Regions from separate parts of the Homo sapiens genome. Here all the other regions are reported to be linked to region 2. Evidence: microRNA targets listed by miRTarBase, many of them from high-throughput screens and not tested one by one. Region 2 holds a microRNA gene; each other region holds the end of a gene's coding sequence.

Region 1 (3,000 bases), not on the chromosome of region 2:
ATATGAATTAAGTATTCATTAGTTCATTGATATGACCATTGACCATTTTTAAAAGTCTAAATTGTAATATGTTAACTCCTGATGGCTTGCTGTCAATAAATTATTTTTTTCCTATGATCAGTTTACTTTGGGAAACACTGCCATAGTCAAAGGGATATCTCCAACCCAAAGTTCAAACTAAATACTTCCATTGTGTAAGATGCCACATTTTGAAGCACAGAGAAATATCTGGCAGCTTTGTAGTTTGAAGCCAATTCAAACGGGTGCTATGTTTCAGTTGCACTGATGTGTTACTATTTTTTTAGGTGAAAGAAGGCAACAGGTAGATTCCCCTGCCTGACACAATGATAACCGCACTTTTCACATTTTCGTGTTTATTCTAAACAAGATTACTGAGAGTCATATAAAGCTTTACCTTTACCCAAAGGGGGTTTATTTCAAGTGGCAAAAGCTCACTAAAGTCTAAATGCTTTATTAACTATAATTGTCAGCATATTGTGTTTAAAAAACACTACTTCCCTAGAGCAGGGGTTGGCCAGCCTTTTGTAAAAGGGCCAGATAGTAAATATTTTACACTTTGCCATCTGGTCTCTGCTGTGTCTACTCCACTCTGCTGCGGTAGCATGGAAGCAGCACAGAGAAGACAGAAATGAGTGTGCACGGCTGTGTTCCAGTAAAACCTGATTTGTGAACACTGAAATATATATTTTATATAATTCTCACGTGCCACCAAATAGTACTTTCTTTTGAATTTTTTTCAACAATTTAAAAATGTAAGGCCAGGTGAGGTGGCTCACGCCTATAATCCTAGCACTTTGGGAGGCCAAGGCGGGTGGATCACCTGAGGTCAGGAGTTCAAGACTAGCCTGGCCAACATGGTGAAACCCTGTCTCTACCAAAAATACAAAAATTAGCCAGGTGTGGTGGCAGATGCCTGTACTCCCAACTACTCTGGAGGCTGAGGCAGGAGAATCGCTTGAACCTGGGAGGCGGAGGTTGCAATGAGCCAAGATCGCACATTGCACTCCAGCCTGGGCGACAAGAGTGAAACTCCGTCTCGAAAAATAATAATAAGAAAATTAAATTAAAAATAAAAATGTAAAAACTATTCTTAGGTCACAGGCCCTACAAGAATAAGCTGTGTGCCAAATTTGGCCCATGGGCCAAATGTACGTATGCCCAGCCCTGTTCTATCAAGCAACAGTGAAACTGTCCCTCCTTAGAGACTACCATCCCTAAAACGACTGACTGTACTCGCCATGTGCTGGAAAATGGGAAGACTTAAAAAAAGGGAAATCACTGAGGCAGAGTCAAGGGGCGACAGACCTTACTCGGGATGCCCTCCTGCCCACCCATGCACAGAGGGCCACATCATCCTGGCATCCACAGCCAGCACAGCGACCAAGGCCGTCCATACCCCACCCAACGGGCCTGCAGAGGTGGCCATCTGCGTCTGCGCAGCACTGACTCGCTGGGCATGCCTCCTCTTCCATCAAGTCACCACTCCCCACTGTGGCTCTGAGAGGAACAGAAAGCCACTTTCCCATCCCCCATCCCCTGCGCTGGCAGTCCAGCGACTAAAAGGGCCCAGCTTCTCTGACTGCTAATGGCCCGGCAAGTCTCCTAACAGTGTGCTCTGCCTACACAAAGGGCGCCGGGGCGTGCGTGCCCGGCTCTCGCAGATCACAGCCAGGGCCTGCCCGAGGACTGGCATTTCAATTCACCAAACGTCTTAATTCGGAGGGGGACGGAACACTTTCTACAGAACATTTTAAAGCACATGGGAAGTTTGGGCCCTTTCGCAGTAGAGAGGAAGGAACGAAGGGGAGGAATTTGTAGGCTGTTGTTTAAGGATTGTTAAAGTGCGCACATCATCAGCTGACAAAGATCGGCCGACTGCCAATGCCTCCCCAAACTCACGAAAGCCAAAATTCAGAGTACAGCGTAAAAGGGGGTGCGAGTGGCCTTTACTTTTATAAAGGACATTTGTACACAATGTCGCACAATAAACAACGTCAAGTCTGGGCACACATTACCCACATCTCAGTCAAAAGAAAAGGGTGGCCTGGCCCAGCCCCGAAGGGTTTTCTCTGAGAAATAGGTTGGGGTGTAAAGGTCCCACGCGTGCACCCACAGTCCGTGGCACCTTCCTCTGGTGCACCGTGGCAGGACGCTTTGTTCTTTCCCTAGGGGTCTCCAGCAAACTGCAAGGGCTACAATATGATATTTAGAGTTAAAAACCAATCCCAAGGCCTTAGAACCATGCCCGGGAGTTGGGAGCCTTTTTCTTGGAGGCAGCTGCTCCGGGCCTTGGAAGTTTCTTCCTATTCTGACGCAGGCTGGGAATTCTAGAGGCCTTGTAGGAAGGTCAAACGGACGAGAAGACTGAGGTCAGAGGCTTTCGGAGCATTGCCCGGGCTCTCTAAGCTCGCTCACTTGTCTGCGGGGGTGCGAGTCGACGGTTCAAAGTCTCCCTCCTTTCCCTCCACGCGCCCCTCACGCCAGACTCGCCACGCTCAGCAAAGCGTCCCAGCAAGTTCCTTGAGGCGGCAGCCCGAGCTCCACGTGCTAATCAACCCCGCCCCACGGCTCTTCGAAACTCTCCAGGCTCAGAGCGCGTCCGCAGGGCGCGCGTAGCGCAGCGTGTAGTTGGCGCCCGCGTTGTTGTCCCAGTACTCGCCCTGCGCGCAGCGGTAGCAGACAGCGAAGTGGACCGCGACGCCGCGCTCGTCGGCGTCCTCTTCGTCCTCAGGCTGCAGGCCCGGGGGCAGGCACAGCGAGAAGTGGAAGCACTCGGCGCCTGGCTCTTTCTTGGCATCCCCGGACCCTGGCTCGGAGGCCCCAGACGGTGCCTCTGGCTGCTGTGGCTCCAGCGGCTCGGGCTGCAGCTCAGCCGGCACGTCCAGGAAGGAGCGCCACTCGGTAAAGGTGTAGCGCACGGTCACGGCCCTGGGCCCAGGGCAGCTGAGCACCCGGCCGGAGCCCTTCACCTCAGCGCCC
Region 2 (3,152 bases):
CCACCAATTTGGCAACCTGTAGGGACCTGATTCCATTTCTTCCACTTCAGTCACGTCTAAGGTGAAAGCCTTAGGCTAAGTTCCACAGATATCTAGCTCCACAATGATGTGGGCAGAGACCGTATTAAGTCTAGTGGGATCCTCTTCCCCTTTAAGAAGCTGCTTCTAGCATTTTCTCTGGATATAAGCACCCAAGGCATTTCCTGTAACTCTGAGCTCCATCGAACTTCCTGTGCCCCATGGTCATGCTGATCCTGGCCTTGGGAGAGAAAGACATTTCTGTATCCTTGTTTCTTCCCTGAATGTCTGTCACTAGCTTCCAGATATGGTCCTTACTTGCCTCTGTCTCTTGCTCCTGGTTGATTTCTCTATGCTCTGTTTGAGATGCCTAAAAAAGTCACTGGTTCTTCCCTTGGGCAGTGCTTGTCTTCTGCTCTTGGTTTAAGCATCTAGGTCTTGACTCACCAGTGGTCATGACATTGGGGGTGATGCCATCATTCCCTGTGGCCTCTCTACCTTACAAAGGTTCCTTATTTTCTTCCTATTTCAAGACTTTTGTGTGGTGAATATTCCTATTCCCTACTTCTTACCTAAGCTGGTGTGTTATTTAGGTGTCTTCATGTGTTTAGGTCCATGGTTCTCAAACAGGGGGATGTGGGGAAAGAGTTTTGCCCCCAAAAAGACATTTGGCAATGTCTGGAGGCTTTTTTTTTTTTTGAGACACGGTCTTGCTCTGTCACCTAAGTTGGAGTGCAGTGGTGCGATCTCAGCTCACTGCAGCCCCAACATCCTGGGCTCAAGCGATCCTCCCATAGCAGCCTCCGAAGTAGCTGGAGCACAGGTGCACACCACCACGCCCACCTAATTTTGTTTATTTTTTGTTTTTATGAAGACGAAGTCTTACTATGTTGCCTAGGCTGGTCTCGAACTCCTAGGCCCAAACAATCCTCCAACCTCGGCCTCCCCAAATGCTGGGATTACAGGCATGAGCAACTGCACCAAGCCTGGAGGCATTTTTAGTTGTCCCAAGGAGGGGCAACTCCTAGAATCTAGTGCACGGAAGTGAAGGATGCTATTAAACATCCTATAAGATACAGAATAGCCCCCAACAACAAAGAATTATCTGGCCTATGATGTCAATAATATTGAGTTTGAGAAACTCTGGTCTTAGAGAAGAGGACCTAATCTTAATTCTGAAAGTAGGTTTATCTGATGTGTAGGTAAATCTGTTCTTTGCAGTGACTGGTTTAACAATAAGTGTATGATTCACTCTAGGCCAATGAAACACAAGAAGTTGCTGAGGGCTTCTTAAAAGGTCCTTCCCTCTGGTGCTGCCAGGTGAAGGTGTGAGCCTTGACCCATGTCACTGCCAGCCCTGGGAGTAAATTGAAGCCAAGGGAATGGCAGGGAAATGGACCAGAGCCACTGGACTCATCAATCCTGAAGTACATCTTTTGGCTCTACTTCCAGAGCTAGGAGTCTCTTTCTTGATTAAGCAGGTTTGAGATTTTTTTTTTCTTGTTGCTGTGGTTACCTACAGCCACATGAATCTCAATGATGCATCTTTACTCTTTTTGGTCACTCATTTGTTTCCGCTTACCATCAGAAGGGTACCTCCAGCTCTTAGCTAATTTTCAGAGCCTCCCTGAACCTGGACAATGATCTGGCTCAAGTCCCAGCTTTGTCCACTTATGCTTCAATGTTCAACAGACCCTTCTGAATGCAGAATTCCTTCAATAAATATTATTATAATAAAAAGACTTCACTCATACTATAAAAAATAACAGACTAACCATTCAGAGGCTACCCAATGGGATTCAATCGATTGGATGTAGGCCTAAGTTCAACTAGGCCTAAACTAATCACAAAACTTGGAGGCACAAAACTTTTTTCCTGTAGGAAAAAAGATGACATCCAGAGAGCAGACAAATTCATTTAAACATCTGACGACTAAAAGGGAGAGGAGCATTTAGCACTTTAAAGCCACGAGAGCAGGTGTTCTTTTATAGTCTTTTATATTGACAGCTGAATGTTTATAAAACAAAGTGCTTGGGTGGCTGGAAAAACAGGCATGCTGACATTAAGGAAGACAAACATTAAAAAGAAAAAAGCAAACTCTCCAGCAAAGGGAGCAATGATCCTGCTGGAGGGGGGTAGGGGGTGAGTTAAAGTCTTTCTAAGATTCTGTGGCCTCATTTAAGTGTGGAAAACACACACCTAAACATCTGCTATGTATGACTTAAAAACCAAGTTCCACTTCATATTCCTCTTTAACCAAATTCTTGCTCTATGCCAAATAACCTATGAGCACTGAGTTTAGGTTTTTCAAAAATGAGGACATTTAAATTTTTAATTTTGTTAAAAAGATCAGGTCATTGAATTCTTTTGTTCAAACTCTCAGAGTGGAGGAAAAGGCATAGTACAATTGCTGGATAGTCAATTACTCTGGATTCCCCCAAGTTATTATACTCTTTATTATACTTGCTAGGGTCAAGTATTTCAGTTTTCTAGACACTTAAGAAAGCCTCCATCTTAGTTTGGGAAAAAGTAAACCATGTATCAGAGTTGGCACAATACATTCTTACTGTTGTTCACAAATCAGCTTTGGGATAGGACAGGTATGAACAATTATGTCCTAGAAAAGGTGAAACTTTTAAAAAAGATGAATGGCTGACCAATGATCTGTGATTACAAGGGACACTCCTAGTAAAGGTTTTTAGTGTGAGCTCCACGTCTCAATAATTATCAACTACAGCAGCAGTCTCCAACATTTTTGGCACCAATATTTAGGGACTGGTTTCATGAAAGACAATTTTTCCACAGACGGGGGTGGGGATGGGTTATGGCATTAGATTCTCATAAGGAGCACGCAACCCAGATCCCTCGCATGCACAGTTCACAATAGGGTTTGCGGTCCTATGAGAATCTAATGCTGCCACTGATCTGAGCGGAGGTGGAGTTCAGGTGGTAATACTTGCTCACCTGCCACTCATCTCCTGCTGTGCAGCCCAGCTCCTAACAGGCCACGGATCAGTACCAGTCCACGGCCTAGGGCTTGGGACCTCTTGAACTATAGAATTGGTTTTCACTAGCTTTGCTTTCCAACTGCAGGCTAGACTACTCTGCGGGATAGGAATCAAGGGAGGGTTTGT
Region 3 (3,000 bases), not on the chromosome of region 2:
ACTCTGGGATTAGGGCTGAGTATGCATACATTTTAGAAAATATTTACTGAGGATTCTGAAGTGATCTCTTGGTTAAAAATTCCTTCCTAATCTATTCATCACTGATTTTTTTTTTTTTTTTTTTTTTTTTGAGATGGAGTTTCACTCTTGTTGCCCAGGCTGGTAGTGCAATGGCTCCATCTCGGCTCACTGCAATCTCCACCTCTTGGGTTCAAGTGATTCTCCTGCCTTAGCTGCTGAGTAGCTGGGATTACAGGCATGCAACCAAACCCGGCTAATTTTTGTATTTTTAGTAGACATGGGTTTTTGCCATGTTGGCCAGGCTGGTCTTGAACTCCTGATCTCAAGTGATCCGCCCACCTTGGCCTCTCAAAGTACTGGGATTACAGGTGTGTGCCACCATGCCCCGGGCCATCCATCATTCACTTCTAAATGGTTCATTGTTAATTCTCCATCTTATGTTCACCCTCTACCCAGTAAGCCTGTCTCTAATTCTTTAAGGGAGGCAAATACTAACCCAATGACTGTTTTTAATTCTCATGGAACCTTTAAGTGAGGAAGTTTGTTTGTAGTTAACCAAAGTAATGGTTATTTTTTGAAATAACAAAAATAGGGATTCTTTTTTCTTTTATAAATTAAGTTTAATTTAGAAACTTATAAACGTTTTAATTTTTGAGCATCCAGCTTCAGAAATAAAAATAATACCTAAAATGAGAGTATAAACATGTTTATTATTTTTCAGAGTTTACTTCCTTTCTTCATTTATTAGCAGATAGAGACTACTGACCCCCTCTCTTGCTGAATGTTGTAAAGAAATTAAAAGTTTAGGTAGATGAGTTACCCACACCCATCCTAAAACACCACAGAGCCCCCTAATAGCCTCAAAGGAAGCACAACTTTCTGGCTTTTCTATAGGGGTTTATGGCCGGGATATAGCACCTACTTGAAATAAAATAGAGTCAGAGTTCATCTAAACCACCCCAAAAGTGTTTGGCATTAAACTCAAGGATTCAAATATTTCAGGAATCTGGAAACTACCAATTACTTAATAATGAAGCAAATTAAGTGAAATTCATAAAGGTTGAAGGTTCTAAATGGCCCAGTGTAGGAAGAAGAGTCAAGCTGTCAGACAGCTTGGAATGGAAATATTACATTTCCAGCTGTTGGTGGAAATCTATAAAAATCTGAGCAAACAGACTGTAGGTAACAGACATGTTACTGCTTCTCTAGTAATGCTTTAATTGCTGTTTGCAACTGTTTTTGTTTGTTTGTAATCCATTTCCTGATCATTAAGGACTCAGATATAAAAAGAATTCCTGCTTTATTCTCTACAAGCTGTCAACAAGATGGAAAAACAGGGGGGAATTATAGCCTACAGCAGTATGAGCAAAAAGAAAGAATGAACATTCAACAGATCAAGATGTGCTAGCAGGAGTGCATGTAGCATCCTGTGTCATGGAGCAGGCCTTTAGACACAGAACCAGACATGGGACTTGTTAGGATACACTGTCCAATCCCAGGGGTGAACACACACCGCACACTAGCTAAAATATCTAGTTATTCCTACTACACAAAACATATGTAAAGCTTCCGCAAAAGAAAGAACTCACCTCCACTGCTGCTGAGAATTAGTCCTCTCCTACTCTAACTCTGGCTTCTCCTTAACCGGTCATAAAACTAGAGGCATAAGGAAGTCCTGACTGGAGAGCTAGAAGGATACTGGTTTCTGACTTGCCTTGTGATGAACCAGTCAGTACTACAGAAACCTGCTTATTTATAAACAGAGCACTTTTATGTGGTCATCTCTTGAGAACCTGTACTAATAAGCTCTAACAAAAAGCATGGGAACCTGGAATCAATAAATAATCCTAAAAACCTCATTTTACCTAGTGATTGCATCCTTCTCTCTGGCAATTAAACTGACTTCCACGTGTCCTTAGGTCTCTATTCTGGAGGATAAGAGAAGCATCAAAAAATCACTGACTGAGTTGACCATCCAGCCCTAAATAATGAAGAGATGACATAAACTATTTTAAAAATTGTAAGTGCCAAAAATCTTTTGGGTAGTCTTTTTAATCCCCGGCAGTTCCATCTCACAATATTAAATTCATTTGAAGATACAATAGTAATCTTTGGATAAGCATGAAAATAAAACATTAGAATCCCAAATATACTCCCCTAGGGGCAATCACATAAGCATATTAGAGATAAATGAAATTTTTTACAAATAGCAAACCTTTATTTACCAATTTGTGGTTTTTTCCCCCCGGTCTTAAATCTTGGGTATTTTGTATTTTCACATTTTTCACTTTCCTTCTGTCCCTAGATCCTCCTAATTTCCTATTACTCAAGTAATTTGTTCTGTTTAATCAAAGAAATCAACCTGATATTTCATTACATTTTGCTAAAAACTCAGAAATAAACCTATTTATGAAGCGCACTATGTCATATACTGTAAAAACTTCATTTTAGCCGTGTTATATTGCTGGCAATTACTGAACTACGAAAGGCTTTTTTTTTTCCCCTCTCTCTCTCTCAACTTAATAAAGCTTGTCAAAGTTTCCAGGAAACAAACTGTGACTTCCGCTTTTATTGCATTCTGATGGGATGAGTGATTACAGAAGCTCAGCATCACAGATCGCTCTCCCCGTAGAGTGCGGAAGAGAACGCAGCGTAATCCAGTGCACCAGGCACACTGCCTGGGCCCGAGTAGGCGGGCATCCTCTTGATGCAGTACTGGGCCTGATCCGGGGGCAGCTCCCGACGCAGCTCCTCCGCCAGGATGTATGGCTGGGAAAAAATACACACGTGTTTGCAGTCAGTTGCAGAAACACCACAACATAAACAGTCTTAATACTTACATATTTCTTGCATCTGTTTAATTTTTTAAAAGGACTAAAGAATAGGGAGTCTATTGGCATAGTAGTACCAGACAACCAACAGAAAGCCAAGTTTTACTTGTAGGAGCGTATCTAGAAGCGGCCTGGCCAGCAGGAAGGG

What was found. The annotated mature microRNA hsa-miR-4446-5p reads AUUUCCCUGCCAUUCCCUUGGC and lies in region 2 at 1,392-1,413, opposite strand. An mRNA with a match to its seed (bases 2 to 7 or 8) in the 3' UTR can be bound and repressed. Matches are read on the target gene's strand: a 7mer-m8 pairs with bases 2 to 8, a 7mer-A1 pairs with bases 2 to 7 and ends in A, and an 8mer does both.
Region 1: miRTarBase lists PPP1R3G as a target of hsa-miR-4446-5p. Seed matches in the 3' UTR shown: 7mer-m8 at 2,479-2,485 and 7mer-m8 at 2,182-2,188.
Region 3: the mRNA of ACTN2 is a reported target of hsa-miR-4446-5p. Seed matches in the 3' UTR shown: 7mer-A1 at 2,518-2,524 and 7mer-A1 at 2,259-2,265.

What each region holds. Positions count from the first base shown.
Region 1 is chr6:5,086,172-5,089,171 of GRCh38, reverse strand. It overlaps PPP1R3G (protein phosphatase 1 regulatory subunit 3G), which reads right to left. Exons shown (of 1, transcript NM_001145115.3): 1 at 1-3,000. The coding sequence ends at 2,610. All of the region lies in intron 3 of LYRM4-AS1 (LYRM4 antisense RNA 1), which reads right to left. It also overlaps a transcript of LYRM4 not described here. Among named protein-coding and RNA genes, the nearest start is that of PPP1R3G, 2.3 kb to the right of the region's middle. RefSeq lists an enhancer at 2,860-3,000.
Region 2 is chr3:113,593,144-113,596,295 of GRCh38, reverse strand. MIR4446 (microRNA 4446) reads right to left here and starts at 1,420; the gene lies at 1,354-1,420. The region is part of intron 10 of SIDT1 (SID1 transmembrane family member 1); the gene reads right to left.
Region 3 is chr1:236,762,251-236,765,250 of GRCh38, reverse strand. ACTN2 (actinin alpha 2) reads right to left here. Exons shown (of 21, transcript NM_001103.4): 21 at 620-2,790. The coding sequence ends at 2,632. Among named protein-coding and RNA genes, the nearest start is that of MTR, 32 kb to the left of the region's middle.